Regions from separate parts of the Homo sapiens genome. Here region 2 is linked to region 1. Evidence: fine-mapped expression QTL. Tissue or cell type: whole blood. Region 1 holds a variant in brackets; the other region holds the start of a gene. All regions are shown on one strand. Distances are from middle to middle.

Region 1 (8,109 bases):
GGGTGGTTTGAGTGGGGATTAGACGCAAAAGAGCCCAATACAGAGACTGCTGGAGCAGCCGTGGTAAGGAAAAGGCAGAGAGAAAGGCAAGAGAGGACACCTTGTGAGATATTTAGAGAGCTGAATGTTTACTATACTTAGTGGCCTTTGAATACAGGAGAGAAGAGTTGAGGGTGTTCTGTTCCCTGAACTTCTGGTTTGGGAGACTGGGTAGATGGTGAGAACACTGACCAAGACAGAAAGATTAGGCTTGGGGAAAAAGATAATGAGTTCATTCTTAGACATGTATGTTAAAAAGTGTTGTAGGATACTTATCAATAACATTGACAATACCCTTAATAATGACAAGAAAGTTAAATAAAAAACGTGGTTCTATAGTGAACTAACCTATTAATTAACAACATAACCAGTAAGTCATATAACTATATTTTGTTCTGAACTCAAATAGCATCTACACCTTTTTTCTCTTTCCTTTCTTCTTTTTCTTTCTTTCCTTCCTTTTCTTTCTTTTTCCTTCCTTCCTCCCTTCTTCCTTCTTTCTTTTTCTTTCTTTCTCTTTCTTCTTTTTCTTTCGTTCGTTCTTTTTCTTTCTTTTCTTTCTGATTTTTGACTTTCCGACTTTCTAACTTTCCTTTCTCCTTCATTCCTTCCTCTTTTTCTTTTTTTCCCTTTTCTTCTTTCTTTCTAACTTTCTAACTTTGCTCTTTCTCCTTCCTTCCTTCTCTTTTTCTTTCTTCTTTCTTTTCTTTCCTTCTTTCTTTTTCTTTCTCTTTTGTTTCTCTCTTTCCTTCTTCCTTTCTTTCCTTTCTCTCTTTTCTCTCTCCTTCCTCCCTCCCTCCTTTCCTTTCTTTTCTTTCTCTTTTTTCTTTCTTTTCTTCTTTGTTTTCTTTCTCTCTCTCCTTCCTTCCCCTCCCTCCCTCTCTTCTTTTCTCTTTCTTTTCCTTCCTTCCTTCTCTTTCTCTTTCTTTGGTTCTTTCTCTCTCTCCTTCCTTCCCCTCTCTCCCTCCCTCCCTCCCTTTTCTTTTTCTCTCTGCTTCTTTCTCTTTCTTTTCTTTCTCTCCTTCCTTCCCCTCCCTCCCTTTCTCTCTTTCTTTTCTTTTCTTCTTTCTTTCTTTCTTTTTCCTTCCTTCCTTCCTTCCTTCCTTCCTTCCTTCCTTCCTTCCCTTTCTCTCTTTCATTTCTTTCTCCTTCCTTCCTTCCTTTCCTTGTTCTTTCTTTCTGAAAGAGTCCCTACTGTCACCCAGGCTGGAGTGCAGTGATAAAACTATGGCTCACTGCAACCTCAATCTGCCAGGCTCAAGCAATGCTCCCACCTCAGCCTCCCGAGTAGCTGGTACCACAGACGCATGCCACTATGCCTGGATAATTTTTGCATTTTCTTTAGAGACAGGGTTTTGCCAAGTTGCCCAGGATGGTGCTGAACTCCTGGGCTCAAGTGATTTGCCTGTCTTGGCCTCCCAAAGTGCTGGGATTACATGTAGGCATGAGCTGCCACACCTAGCTACCTTTCTTTTTCTGGTCTAAACAAAATGTTCCTTTTAATTTATCTCTAAATCTTAATTTTTTTTCCCTAAGAGACAGGTTTTCTAAAAATCTGGTCCTAAATTTACATCTGAAATATTACATGCATGGTCACAACTGCATTTCCTGTTTTTCAATACAGTGCCAAAATCCACGTGATCCAAAATACGGATGATTTAAAAAATAACTCCGACTTTCCTTGGGACACATTTATAAGACTTTTCAGACCATTGTGGGTTCTGGTTTACAGATACCGCTACAAATTATAAAAGTAGTTAACTTACCCCAAAGATGTTTCATACACTGAAAAAGAAAGATGAACCACAAGGATGTTGGGTGTCTGGAGATGAATTTAGTATCAAAGGGTGGTTTAACACCAGAGAAAATGATCACTAAGAGGTGACTGTCTCCCTTTATCTTTATTGCAAGGGGACCGCTCCAGGCCCTGCCGCTTTGTGGGGCTACTGTTTGCAGGCCTGGGTGCTGTTCTAGGCTACAGTCTCTTGTAGTCATAGGCTTTTGCTAAAAATTTTCACCCTCCTCCAGCCCTGATGGTTGCAACCTGCACCACACTACTGTGTTCACTCTCAATATTCTTATGTTCAATATCATCTTCCATCTCAGTCTAATCCATTACTAAATATTTTTTCTTTAAAAAAGTCATCGTCAATTCACAAAGTATGTTTGTTAATATTTTTGATCTCCAAGTAGAAACACTTTAAATTTTATCATTGGCCAAAAGCATCCATCAGCATCTTTATGTTCTTAGAAAGTGTCACTGGATATTGGAAACTGCGTAAGGAGTCTCCAAGAAATGGAGTTTAATCTCTGCGATGGATGCTTCTCATGCCATGCCAGCCCATTTCCCAGCTGGAGCACCCATCCTCCAGTGTGGTCAGGGGACTCCTAAGGATGCCAGAGAACCTTTCAGAACGTCCATGTCAAAACTGTCTTCACAGTAATACTAAGACACTCACTTTCCCACAAGTGTGCTCACAACAGAATTTTCCAATAACTACCTGACATGGGCTATTGTAACATGTTGAATGCAGAAGCAGATATGAGAATGCAGCTGTCTTCTGTTAAGTCTAAAATTAAAGAGATTTGCAAAAATGGCAAAACGGGACCACTTTTTTAAGTTTCTAAGATTTCACCTATATGTGAAATCTAAAAAAGTCACACTCATAGAAGCAAAGAGTAGTATTTTTCATAAAATATTTTATTTAATATATAGTGGTTTTAATATTTATATTTTTACTTTTACTACATTATTTTGAGACAGAGTCTCACTTTGTTGCCCAGGCTGGAGTGCAGTCACATGATTCGGCTCACTGCAACCTCTGCCTGCCAGGTTCAAGTGATTCTCCTGCCCCAGCCCCAAGTAGCTGACATTATAGCATGATAAACATGCCGCCATGCCAGGCTAATTTTTGTATTTTTAGTAGAGATGGGATTTCACCATGTTGCCCAGGTTGGTCTTGGACTCCTGACCTCAAGTGATCTGCCCACCTCAGTCTCCCAAAGTGCTGGGATTGAATACAGGCATGAGCCACTGCGTTCGGCCACTTTTACTACATTACTTTTAATAGCAAAACCAGCAATTACTTTTGCACCAATCTAATACATAAATAAAAATTAAACAAATGTAAAAGAATTTCAGTTTTATTTTCTAACACAGTAAATATTGACAGACATAACCCACCTACATAAAAGCTTTTGGAGGAGCCTCAATAGATTTTAAGAGTGTAAAGGGGTCCTGACACTAAACAGTTTGAAAACTCTGCTCTGTGAATCAATTATAGAAAACTTTTATGTTTCAAAATTGAATGTGTATGCGATGAGTGGAAATTAATTCACAGAATTAAATTAACGTGAGAGTTTAGCTAAGGTTAACCACTATATCACTAAATCACAAAACATCACTCCCTCATATGTCTCATTACAGATGACATCTGGATGATGTATCCAGAGATGAAATCTGCTGTCAACCAGGCTATGAGAAACAAATTTCCTTAAAACGCAAGGTGCAGCAGACTAACATGGCACATGTATACATATGTAACAAACCTGCACGTTGTGCACATGTACCCTAAAACTTAAAGTATAATTAAAAAAAGAAATATCCTAAGAAAACAACACATATCATCTTATGGGTTAGTTTGTATGTAGACAAGACTATTATCTGTTTTGTCCAAAGTTATGACAATGTCTTGTAGCTTGTCTTCTCATCAAGAGCTCAATTTTATTATTATGTGATTATTTGATCTGTAAGAATTTGTGCCTAGGAAAAATTCAAATTGATTTATAAACTTAAAGACATATATTAATATGTTTTAAAATAATTTCTTTATCTTTTAACATAAACCAACAAATTTATTTCCCCTCAAAAAATAAAAATAAAACTAAATGATTTTTCTAACCA[G/GA]AAAAAAAAAACCCAAGAGGATTAACAAAAAACAAAATATTTTAAATAGAACAAACAAGACATTTTGCTTCAAAAATATAGGTCAATGTGACTCTTCAACTAATATACGCACTTATTTTGATTTCCAACAAGTGCTTCTACACAAACCACATGTAATCACTGCTGCAAGACCATGCCTTTTTCCATCAACAAAATTGTGGGCATCTTTTGTTAAAGATGTCTATTTAAGGGTCAGAAAGAAGCCTTTGCACAAATTTATCTTTCGGTGCATCGAGTTCTCATTTCTTTGTACATGTCCCCACCTTTCCCCTTCTTCTGAACCTCAGTACTCCTTCCAAAGTCTCGAGTCTATCCTTTTTTAAAAAAGTGCAGTAAATAACATAAAAGAGAACAAAGGAGAGACAATTTTTTTTTTGAGATGGAGTCTTGCTCTGTCACCGAGGCTGGAGAAGGGAGACAAATACTGAGAGAACCACCTTTACAATCATTACAACATACATGAAATGATTCAAATCTTCAAGATGGGGTGTCAATTAGTGTAAGCTCTTCTATTATACTATACACAGCTATCAAAACTCTAATAAAGGAGAACTACCAAATGATCTAGTTGTCTTGCTTCTGGATATATATGCAAAGGATTTGAAATCAGTGTTGAAGAGATATCAGTACTCCTATGTTCACTGGAGCACTATTCACAATAGCCAAGACATGGAATCAAACTAACTGTCCATCAGTGAATAAACAGACACAGAAAATATGGTGTGTATGTATACACAGTGGAATACTATTTAGTCTTAAAAAGAAGGATATTCTGTCATTTGAGACAACATGGTTGAACCTGGAAGACAATATGTTAACTGAAATACACTAGGCACAGAAATAAAAATTCTGAATCATCTCACCTATATGTGAAATCTAAAAAGGTCAAACTCATAGAAGCAGAGAGTAGAATGGTGACTACCGGGCCTGGGTGGGGCGGGAGGTGAGGATGGGGAGATGTTGGTCAAAGGGTACAAAGTTTCAATTACAGGGGAAAAATAAGTCTTTTTTAAAAATATACTTTTATTATACTTTAAGTTCTAGGGTACATGTGCACAACGTGCAGGTTTGTTACATATGTATACATGTGCCATGTTGGTGTGCTGCACCCATTAACTCGTCATTTACATTAGGTGTATCTCCTAATGCTATCCCTCCCCACTCCCCCCAGCCCACAACAGGCCCCGGTGTTGATGTTCCCCTTCTTGTGTCCAAGTGTTCTTATTGTTCAATTCCCACCTATGAGTGAGAACATGCGGTGTTTGGTTTTTTTACCCTGCGATAGTTTGCTAAGAATGATGGTTTCCAGCTTCATCCATGTCCCTACAAAGGACATGAACTCATCATTTTTTATCACTGCATAGTATTCCATGGTGTATATGTGCCACATTTTCTTAATCCAGTCTATCATTGTTGGACATTTGGGTTGGTTCCAAGTCTTTGCTATTGTGAATAGTGCCACAATAAACATACGTGTGCATGTGTCTTTATAGCAGCATGATTTATAATCCTTTGGGTATATACCCAGTAATGGGATGGCTGGGTCAAATGGTATTTCTAGTTCTAGATCCCTGAGGAATCACCACACTGACTTCCACAATGGTTGAACTAGTTTACAGTCCCACCAACAGTGTAAAAGTGTTCCTCCTATTTCTCCACATCCTCTCCAGCACCTGTTGTTTCCTGACTTTTTAATGATTGCCATTCTAATTGGTGTGAGATGGTATCTCATTGCGGTTTTGATTTGCATTTCTCTGATGGCCAGTGATGATGAGCTTTTTTTGTGTGTCTTTTGGCTGCATAAATGTCTTCTTTTGAGAAGCGTCTGTTCATATCCTTCGCCCACTTGATGATGGGGTTGTTTTTTTCTTGTAAATTTGTTTGAGTTCTTTGTAGATTCTGGATATTAGCCCTTTGTCATATGAGTAGATTGCAAAAATTTTCTCCCATTCTGTAGGTTGCCTGTTCACTCTGATGGTAGTTTCCTTTGCTGTGCAGAAGCTCTTTAGTTTAATAAGATCGCATTGGTCAATTTTGGCTTTTGTTGCCATTGCTTTTGGTGTTTTAGACATGAAGTCCTTGCCCATGCCTATGTCCTGAATGGTATTGCCTAGATTTTGTTCTAGGGTTTTTATGGTTTTAGGTCTAACATTTAAGTCTTTAATCCATCTTGAATTAATTTTTGTATAAGGTGTAAGGAAGGGATCCAGTTTCAGCTTTCTACATATGGCTAGCCAGTTTTCCTAGCACCATTTGTTAAACAAGGATTCCTTTCCCCATTTCTTGTTTTTGTCAGGTTTGTCAAAGATCAGATGGTTGTAGATGTGTGGTATTATTTCTGAGGGTTCTGTTCTGTTCATTTGTCTGTGATTCTGTTTTGGTACCAGTACCATGCTGTTTTGGTTACCATTGCCTTGTAGTATAGTTTGAAGTCAGGTAGCAGGATGCCTCCAGCTTTGCTCTTTTGTCTTAGGATTGACTTGGCAATGCGAGCTCTTTTTTGGTTCCATATGAACTTTAGTTTTTTCCAATTCTGTGAAGAAAGTCATTGGTAGCTTGATGGGGATGGCATTGAATCTATAAATTACCTTGGGCAGTATGGCCATTTTGTCCATATTGATTCTTCCTACCCGTGAGCATGGAATGTTCTTCCATTTGTTTGTATCCTTTTATTTCATTGAGCAGTGGTTTGTAGTTCTCCTTGAAGAGGTCCTTCATATCCCTTGTAAGTTGGATTCGTAGGTATTTTATTCTCTTTGAAGCAATTGTGAATGGGAGTTCACTCATGATTTGGCTCTCTGTTTGTCTGTTATTGATGTATAACAATGCTTGTGATTTTTGCACATTGATTTGATATCCTGAGACTATGCTGAAGTTGCCTATCAGCTTAAGGAGATTTTGGGCTGAGACGATGGGGTTTTCTAGATATACAATCATGTCATCTGCAAACAGGGACAATTTGACTTCCTCTTTTCCTAATTGAATACCTTTATTTCTTTCTCCTGCCTGATTGCCCTGGCCAGAACTTCCAACACTATGTTGAATAAGAGTGGTGAGAGAGGGCATCCCTGTCTTTGCCAGTTTTCAAAAGGAATGCTTCCAATTTTTGCCCATTCAGTATGATACTGGCTGTGGGTTTGTCATAAATAGCTCTTATTATTTTGAGATACGTCCCATCAATACCTAATTGATTGAGAGTTTTTAGCATGAATGCTGTTGAATTTTGTCAAAGGCCTTTGCTGCATCTATTGAGATAATCATGTGGTTTTTGTCTTTGGTTCCGTTTATATGCTGGATTATGTTTATTGATTTGCATATGTTGAACCAGCCTTGATCCCAGGGATGAAGCCCGCTTGATCATGGTGGATAAGCTTTTTGATGTGCTGCTGGATTTGGTTTGCCAGTATTTTATTGAGGATTTTTGCATTGATGTTCATCAGGGATAGTTGTCTAAAATTCTCTTTTTTTGTTGTGTCTCTGCCAGGCTTTGATATGAGGATGATGCTGGCCTCATAAAATGAGTTAGGGAGGATTCCCTCTTTTTCTAGTGATTGGAATAGTTTCAGAAGGAATAGTAACAGCTCCTCCTTGTACCTCTGGTAGAATTCGGCTGTGAATCCGTCTGCTCCTGGACTTCTTTTGGTTATTAAGCTACTAATTATTGCCTCAACTTCAGAGCCTGTTATTGGTCTATTCAGAGATTCAACTTCTTCCTGGTTTAGTCCTGGAAGGGTGTATGTGTCCAGAAATTTGTCTATTTCTTCTAGATTTTCTAGTTTATTTGTGTAGAGGTGTTTATAGTATTCTCTGATGGTAGTTTGTATTCCTGTGGGATTGGTGGTGATATCCCCTTTATCATTTTTTATTGTGTCTGTTTGATTCTTCTCTCTTTTCTTCTTTATTAGTCTTGCTAGCGGTCTATCAATTTTGTTGATTTTTTCAAAAAACCAGGTCTTGGATTCATTGATATTTTGAAGAGTTTTTGTGTCTCTATCTCCTTCAGTTCTGCTCTGATCTTAGTTGCCTTCTGCTAGCTTTTGAATTTCTTTGCTCTTGCTTCTCTAGTTCTTTTAATTTTGATGTCAGGGTGTTAATTTTAGATCTTTCCTGCTTTCTCTTGTGGGCAT
Region 2 (8,090 bases), 320 kb after region 1:
GGGCAGGGCACGAAGTGCCTAAATCTGTCAGTGGTAGGGGGAAGGGTCAGGGAAGTGTATATTATAAGTTGTGGTTACCTGGCTGAGTCTTGGAAAAGTTAGTCAGATGAATGGGAAGTGGGAGCAAAAGAAATAGCATTGGAAAAGAGAAGCAGGATCATGAAACGGTGTGGCTCCTTGCGGGAACTCCAAGGAGTTTAGGTGTGTGAAGTTGTGGTCATTTTAGCAGGGTAATCAGAGGCCAAATCTTGCACACTCTTGTACAGAGTTCTGTCCTGATCCTGTATGTAGTGTTGGGAACCCATGGGCTTTATTCCGAAGGTAGTCTTGGGGGTTATATGTTAAATAGGCTTAGTCAGGGCATCAAAAGTAAAACTGGAAGTTCTGCAATTTTTCAGGTAAGAAATAATGATGAACCATTGTAAGACAGTGGAAGTGAGGGTGAGACTGGGTGAATCTAGGAAATACTTGAATGACAAAATAGATTAGGCTTTATAACGTATTGGATATGTTAGGTGAAGAAGAGGTAAAAGGCCAGAATGGCTCCTAAGTTTGTGGCTGGTGAGCAGGTGAATGCTGTACTAAAAGAATGTAAATTAGGGCCGAAAACAGATTTGGGAGGTGAGATCATGAGTCAAGTTTTCCACTTATCATATTTAATGTGCCTATGGGGCATCCAAAGAGTGATATCCTGTAGAGAACTGCGTACGTAAGTTAGGGGCCCAGAGTCAAGATCTTAAGTGGAAATACAGACTTGGGAGTCCATGGTAAATGTAGGGTGGGGAAATCATGACAGTGGGCCAGGTCATCCTAGTTTGTTTAGAGGGAGGGCTGATGTTCTCAATGAAAACCTGAGGGAAGGCCAGCATCTAACCAGTACACAGAGAAAGAGAGGTCCACAAGGAGACGGAGAAGAATCAGAACAGGAAGAAACTCAGAAAAGTATGCGGGCCCTGGGAGAAAAATGGCCCACAGTGAGAAATTCTGGACAGAGTATCATAATGACTAGCATTCTTTGGGTTTGCCAGTTCCAGTTACGCATTAGGAAATAAATTGTTTCTTATATAAGAAATTCCTTTCTTTTCTGAAGTACGGTTACAATTTAATTGTTCTCTTATATTTTATTTTTATTCATTTATATCTTGACTAATATGGTGTGTTTTATTCTTTTTATTCAGCTGTCAACTTTTTGAGGGTAGGGACCATGATTTATTCATCTTTAAATTGTGAATTATGTTGGCACAAGGGATCACTAAAATATTTATTGAACGACTGAATAATTGATAGTTACTTGTTTAAGCATCAAAAATATAAACTTTTTTTATGATTTTTGCTGGAAACATTTATAAACTGCATTGTTTGTTTTTCTGCCTTTTAAAGTGGAGCATACTGAACATAATGTAATCTTCCATTTGTTGGGATGACTCCATTGTATGGATATATGGGCTGTTTACCCTGCACTAAAATGACTGCACTGTACTTGGTGATTCAGCCTTATCTCTCCTCTTTCTTTTCCTTGATGAAGACCAGAAGGCAAGATTAGTATTTGTCAGATTTTTGAAATTCTGAGGTAATAATACTTACATGCCAGTTATTTGTATAAAACATATATAATTTCTCAACATTTCATATGATATTCACAAATTTAGTTGAATGGGGAGAAGACAGGCACATAGAATCAAAGTTGAGGTCAGAAGTAGTCTTTCTATGCCTCAAGTTGTGAGTGCATAGACAAAAATTTTAAAATACTGGTTTTTATACATTTTTAAACTTACGTTGTCTACTTCTATAAGAGTTAAATCTGTGAGTTTTAAATAAGATAATAGGTTATTTCCACCTTTTTGTAAGGTGCATAATATTTTGTCATCTTTATAAAGCTGGCTATCATTAAAGTTTTTAATGTAGTGGTAGAACTCAATTCATTTTTTCCAAAGGAATTTAGAAACTGGAAGACAAATCTTCTATATATTATAAGAATAAATATATCCATAATGTACAAAGTAAGGTAAACATTGATCTTATGCATATCCAGGGTTTAGTGTAAATTTGTTTGATCCAATTTACAGCTTGAATAAAGATTTACAATAATCAAACAATTATTGATACTTGGGCAGGTAGATTCCATGAAGGCTGTGATAGTAGCATATTTTAACTCTGTATCTTAAGGCTATATCCAAATGTATAAGTCAATTGTTAAATATATGGAGCTCTTGAAATTTGACCATTTCATGAGTTTAAAGATCCTGAATGTGAAAAAATAAAACATGTTGTCTGCTTCTTTCAGACTATTTTGGCCAAAATCAAAATGTTATGATTACTTATATCAAGAAGCAGAAGCTCTTCTGAAAAATTTTCCAATTCAAGCCACAATTTCATTTTATGAAGATTCTGATAGCGAAGATGAAATTGAGGATCTGACCTGTGAAAATTAATCTGATTAGCTACTTTTGATTATATCCAAAGCTTGTGGGGTTTAAATTTAGTGTACAAATGTATCATAATTATTTTAAACTAATTTATTTGTATATAAATTATTAATAAAATGAAATATTTTGTAATTATTCTGGTATTTGGCCTTTTCTTTATCCCTACACTAGAATTGAATGTTGGAATCTAAAACAGGTGCCATCTACAAATGTCTTGATTGTATTATAAATATTTGGGGCTTACAAAGAATACATTTTTCTTTTCGTTAAATTGCACATTTATATTTAGTTATAATTTTGCAAAGAATGACAGTATTTAATTCTCAAGACTGAATCTTTTAACATCTGCTATTTCCTACTGATGCCAGTTGGATGTTGTAGTTACATATCAATGTTATCTTATTAGATAATGAAGAAAATAGACTTATGTTAGAAATCACTCATTTATTAGTAAAGATTTCTTAGCAGATGGAGAAAAACACATTAAATCATTACCTGTAATTGAAAAAGGGAATCAATCTTAGGGCTTTTAAATTATAGATATTTTAAATAAATGATGAGCAAAGTAACTCATATTTTAATACTCCTCTTCAGTCCTTAAATCCAGTAGTAAAATAGTATGGATGTTTAATACTTAATGTACTACATTGAGGGATCCCTAGAATTAAAACAAAACGTTTAAATTTGAGTGATTGATATGGAGTCTAAAAAAGTGGAGTCTAAAGGCCAGAAGTTGATAGCATCTTCCATTTCTGTACAAAGGGGAGCTAAGAAATTTGGAAAGCATGGAACATTCTTCAACAATATTAACTTTTCCTTGCTCTGGTTCTCTGCTTTTGATATTCTTATGTAAAAGTTTTCTCACGAGAAGTGAAATAAATCTCAGTGATTAGTTTTTCTTGTGTAGACTCTAGAAGAATATGTCATCATTTAATGAGAGAGAACACAGAAGCAATTTGCAAAGTCAAAGTAATACAGTTAATTATAGTCATGAGGTTCTTTTAGCTCAAATTCAGTCTTCTCATAATAAGCATTTCAATTGCAAATAAAAATGGATAGAGGTGAATGTCATAGGTGGCTACCTTATTTGAATGCTTGTATTTGAATGGCCACATATAGTCACACACTTTTTCTTCTGATTCTGCAAACATAACCTTGATTTTTTAGGCACTTTAAGAACTAAGTAGTTAAACAGAGAAAGTTTAAAGCATGACAATATGTTCAGAGTTAGGAAAAATTAGTAATTAAAGGAGGATGGGGAGGATTATTTAGAACTATGTTTCTTCTCCTGAAAACTTTCTCCCTTATTGGATTCTACTCTCAAGATCTATGTGTTCCCCAAGGGACACACAAAACAATCAATCAAACAAACAAAAACCATCAGATTTTGAGCATTAGAGCCTGGTGTTTACCTGCACAGTGTTGGTCCTTTTCCCATTAATATGTTGGAATAGCACAAACAGCCACTGCCACTTATTCAGTACCTAATATTAATCAGGCACTGCAGTATGTAGTTTACACATGATCCTTTAATCTTTAATAAACCCATTATGCAGATGGGGAAAATGAGACTTTGAGATACTAAAGTAACTTGCATAAGACAGCTCAGTCATTAAGTGCAGGGATGGCATGCAAACCAAATCTGACTTTTAAACGTTACTTCATCACCACAGCTGGAGGTGAGCTGCATCAGTACACAATTCCCAGTGAAGACAGGAAGTTACATAAGGAGGGAGAATTTGTGAGTGGGTGAATAGAGCAGAAGGTGACTTTACTAACGTCTTTCGCGCATTCATTAGCCCTCAGCATGCTTAAAGGTGAAGTTTAAGGATGATTAAAGGTGAGGTTTTCTTCTTACCCCACAGTAGTGGCTGTTGACATTTGATATTTTTGCTCTTAAAGGTGTGAGATGCTCTTTGCATTACAGCCTAGTGCCTTACAGGAAAGAATTTCAGAGAAACTAAAATTCGTTTTAGTCCATATTTCAAGTAGTGTGTTTTAGTCCATATTTCAAGTAGTGTGATGGTACTGCTTAACAATGAACAGACATTGCTGTTCCGGGTTAACAGGACTAAGAATTTGTTCCCACATTCGGTCAGCACCAAGGCTAAGGAACAGCTTCACTCTCTAATCTTTCCACGAAATAGCTGTCACCTTGCTCCGGTGCTGAAGTTCGGGATGCGGAACTAGCTGAGCATGCGTACTTCCTCCCTGCCGGCCCTCCCTCCGTCCCGTTGGCTCCGCCCTCCGCGGACGTGCTGCGTCAGAATGCGCCTCACCCCTGGCGACCCCGGAAGTGGGTCGGGGGCTTGGCCTCTGCCCGGCCACAGAGCCGGAGCTGGAGGTGCTGTCCCGTCTGGCGGCGATCCCCGGGCAGGGCCCGGGGCCGGGGTTTGAAGATGCTGAACGTCCCTTCCCAGTCTTTCCCGGCCCCCAGGTCGCAGCAGCGTGTCGCCTCCGGGGGGCGTAGCAAGGTAAGCGGGTGGCTCCGTGAGTCTCTCCCCTCGCTGCGTTTCGAGCTCTGGCAGTGTGTTCTCTTCTTCCGCCCCAACTCCCAGCTCCTGCACCCCTCTCTAAGCTGTCGTTCCCTGCTGTCCTTGCCTGCAACCTCTTTCTGATCCCACTTTGTCTACAGTCCCTAAACTCTCCTTACCTCCTCCCTTTCCCCTAGCAGTCCCTCTTCTTTCTGGTCCTTTATCCCGCTCTATCCGTTCCCTTCCTCCAAGTCCTTTCCCGCGATTTAAATTTATATGACAGAGCCAGGCACTGTGTTTGCGGTATTATAGGCTCTCGGTATTAGCCGCCTTCCCTCAACCTCATCTTCTCCCTGGTCTTTTGTTCTTCACTGCCTGAAGGAGTTGTACCACATCACTCGATGTGGGTTCCCTCGCAGGAGGGAAAGGCTTGGCAGTGGCGACAGTGACCGTCCGTGCAAGGATGGGGACTTCTGGAGTTGGGGAGCTAGGTCAGGTTTACAGACACTATCCAAGACATACTGCCTTTCTTTCTTCCTCTGGTACCTGATTGTTTTGTCATTGCCTTTTCTACTAGTATCACTTGCTAACTTCGAAGCAAATATAATAATACTCTTGAGTTCTTGTTGAGCACAGTTGCTGTTAGCAACAGGTGGAATACTGTACAGATATATTTTATATTTGCAGAATTCAATAAAAATTGTGTTCTTTGTTCTTTTGCGAATGTTGTTTGTTCCTATTTGTTAGTTCCTCATTCTGTAACCATATCTTTATCTTTCGTTTGTGACACTTCCACTTAACTTGGGCCACTCGGTTAACTCTTGAGTCTTAGCATCGTTTGGAACCCTTATCGATTTTCTTATTTTTCTCCACTTAGACCTGGCGTTCTGATTCTAGTTCAGAATGAATATAGGTTCAGGGATCTGTGGTTTTCATTAGCTTTCCAGAGATTTCTTAAGTACTTACGGGTGGCCGTGTATATTCTCAGTGCTTTGCATGTATTAACTTTAATTTTCACAATTATCCTTTGAAGTGAAAGCTTTTATTGTCTCTATTTCGCAGAAAAGGAAACTGGCTAAGAAATATTGCCCTAAATTGCGTAGGCTTGTGTTGTGGTTCTGCTGTGAAATTTCATTTACTGATTCATATATCAATCATCTAGCCATCCAATCATGTATATTTTTCTCATTGGTTTTTGACCTATTTCTTGAAGCTAAATACTTGACTGAATAACAGTCTTTCCAGAAAGAATCTCTGAATTAGAATATGAGTTACTGCCCTTCTTCGTTAAAAATACCAACTGTGTTCTTAGCATCCATTTAAAGGAGAAAACTTAGAAGCAAAGACAAAAAGTCACACAGGGGGCGATGGCAAAGGTGAGTTTTTGGTCCAAAAAGAGAACAAAATAAGATTATTGTGCAATTCTAAGGAAAAGTCAGACTCCAGTCTTCTTCCTCTTTTCTTTGTGAAACAAGATGATGCTGAGAATGTAAAAACTGAGTCAGGTTTGGATGAAATGGGTAGAGGTTGAGAAAATAGAACCAAGTTGGGAAGGTCGTGTATTATACAAAAGGTTCTCAAATAGTGTTGTTTCATTCAACAGCATTTAGTTATAATATTGATGAGAAAAAAAATTCGTTTTGGCCAGGGCCACTGTCTTTGGAGTTTGCATGCTCTGTGTCTGCGTGGGTTTTCTCTGGGTACTCTGGTTTCCTGCTACAGCCCAAAGATATGCAAGTTAGGTTAATTGGTGTGTCTAAATGGTCCCAGTCTGTGTGAATATTGGGTGTGTATGAGTGTGCCTTGCCATAGGATGGCATCCTGTCCAAGGTCGGTTCCTGCCTTGTGCCCTGAGCTACTGGGATAGGCTCTGACTACCTGTGACATTGAACTGGAATAGTTGGGTAAATAATTATCTTACTTGTTTTTTAATTAATCTTTCTTAAATGTATATATAGCTAACATTTCTTTCAGTGTTTAATATTAGAAGTATTTTGGTCTTTATTTAGAAGTCTGGTGATGTTTTTGTGACCAGAAATATGCTGCAGGAAATTTTGTTTGTCAATTAACCCACGGTAAAATTAGTTTCGTTGTACATAGTTTAGTTTCCAAGCACCTAGTGACTAGCTTAAGTGAAGGCTTATTGTAATTTTTTAAAGGCACAGATTTTGAAGTGAGAAAGACCTAGATTCTTTCACCATATCTGCCAGTTAATCTCTTTGAGTCTGTTTCCTCAGATGTAAATGAGAATAACAGTACCCATTTTATAGGATTGTTCATAGGATTCAATGAGATAATGTTTCTCTTAGCACAGCCTTGGTAAGCACCCAGTAAATGCTACTTGTCCTGAGGCTTTTATTCAGATCTCACAGACTTGAGTGTGACACAGAATATGCACTCAACATATGATAGTTATTATTTCTATTAATACTGGTAAACAAATACTTATTGAGAACCTACCATATGCTGGAGTTTTTGGTCTCTGATTTCAAGGTGTTTAGTCTCATAGGTTGCATGAAATAGTGAACATTCAGTTATAAAGTCATAAGTACTACAACAGGGTGGTATGACCACTAAGGAGTTGAGGATCAGAGAAGCCTTCCAGAGGAATTAATGGGAGTTGGAGTGAGGTTGATCCATGCAGGGAAAGCAACACTACTATAAGCAAGTACTTGACAGCAATAAAGGAATCAAATAATCAGTTCCCATTTGGCTAAAGTATATAATGGAAAGGAGCAAAAGTTAGAACATGGAGCTAGTACAGTCAACTGTGACCAGATTGTGAAGACCTGGTAAATCCCTAGGGAATTTAGAGACGTTGTTGTAAGGTGACCTGAGGAGCCACTGAAGGAGGGAGAGCCTGTGATTAGATTTGCATTTCTGAAAGATTGCTTTAACTATCCTGTGGATTATGGAATGGAGAGAGGTGAGTGATTTTAGTTTGGGATGGGAAAGGTCATTTTCTCACACTTCATTTATTGGGATCAAGAGACCTAGAGTTTCAGTGATAGCCAGAATGGAATGATGTAGATTGATAGGATAGAATGTGAAAGGCACCACAGACCTATTAACTTGGTTACTTTGGGAGTAAATGGATGTCTAAAATAGATATGATTCAGGAAAGTGAGATATGTAAACATCCTTGAATGTGTCTGCTTTTACATTAAACATTCTTCTGTTACTACGTTAC

The links. PIP is the estimated chance that this variant, and not a neighbour inherited with it, causes the effect.
Region 2: it holds the start of CYB5R4, and the variant in region 1 is fine-mapped to the expression of CYB5R4 in whole blood (INTERVAL, PIP above 0.99).

Annotation. Positions count from the first base shown.
Region 1 is chr6:83,536,426-83,544,534 of GRCh38, forward strand. No RefSeq gene overlaps it. Among named protein-coding and RNA genes, the nearest start is that of PRSS35, 28 kb to the left of the region's middle. The variant G/GA (reference allele first, on the strand shown) is at 3,944.
Region 2 is chr6:83,854,958-83,863,047 of GRCh38, forward strand. CYB5R4 (cytochrome b5 reductase 4) reads left to right here and starts at 4,732. Exons shown (of 16, transcript NM_016230.4): 1 at 4,732-4,900. The coding sequence starts at 4,826. RIPPLY2 (ripply transcriptional repressor 2) reads left to right here. Exons shown (of 4, transcript NM_001009994.3): 4 at 2,285-2,558. The coding sequence ends at 2,432. The region is part of intron 3 of RIPPLY2-CYB5R4 (RIPPLY2-CYB5R4 readthrough); the gene reads left to right. RefSeq lists a silencer at 4,803-4,852.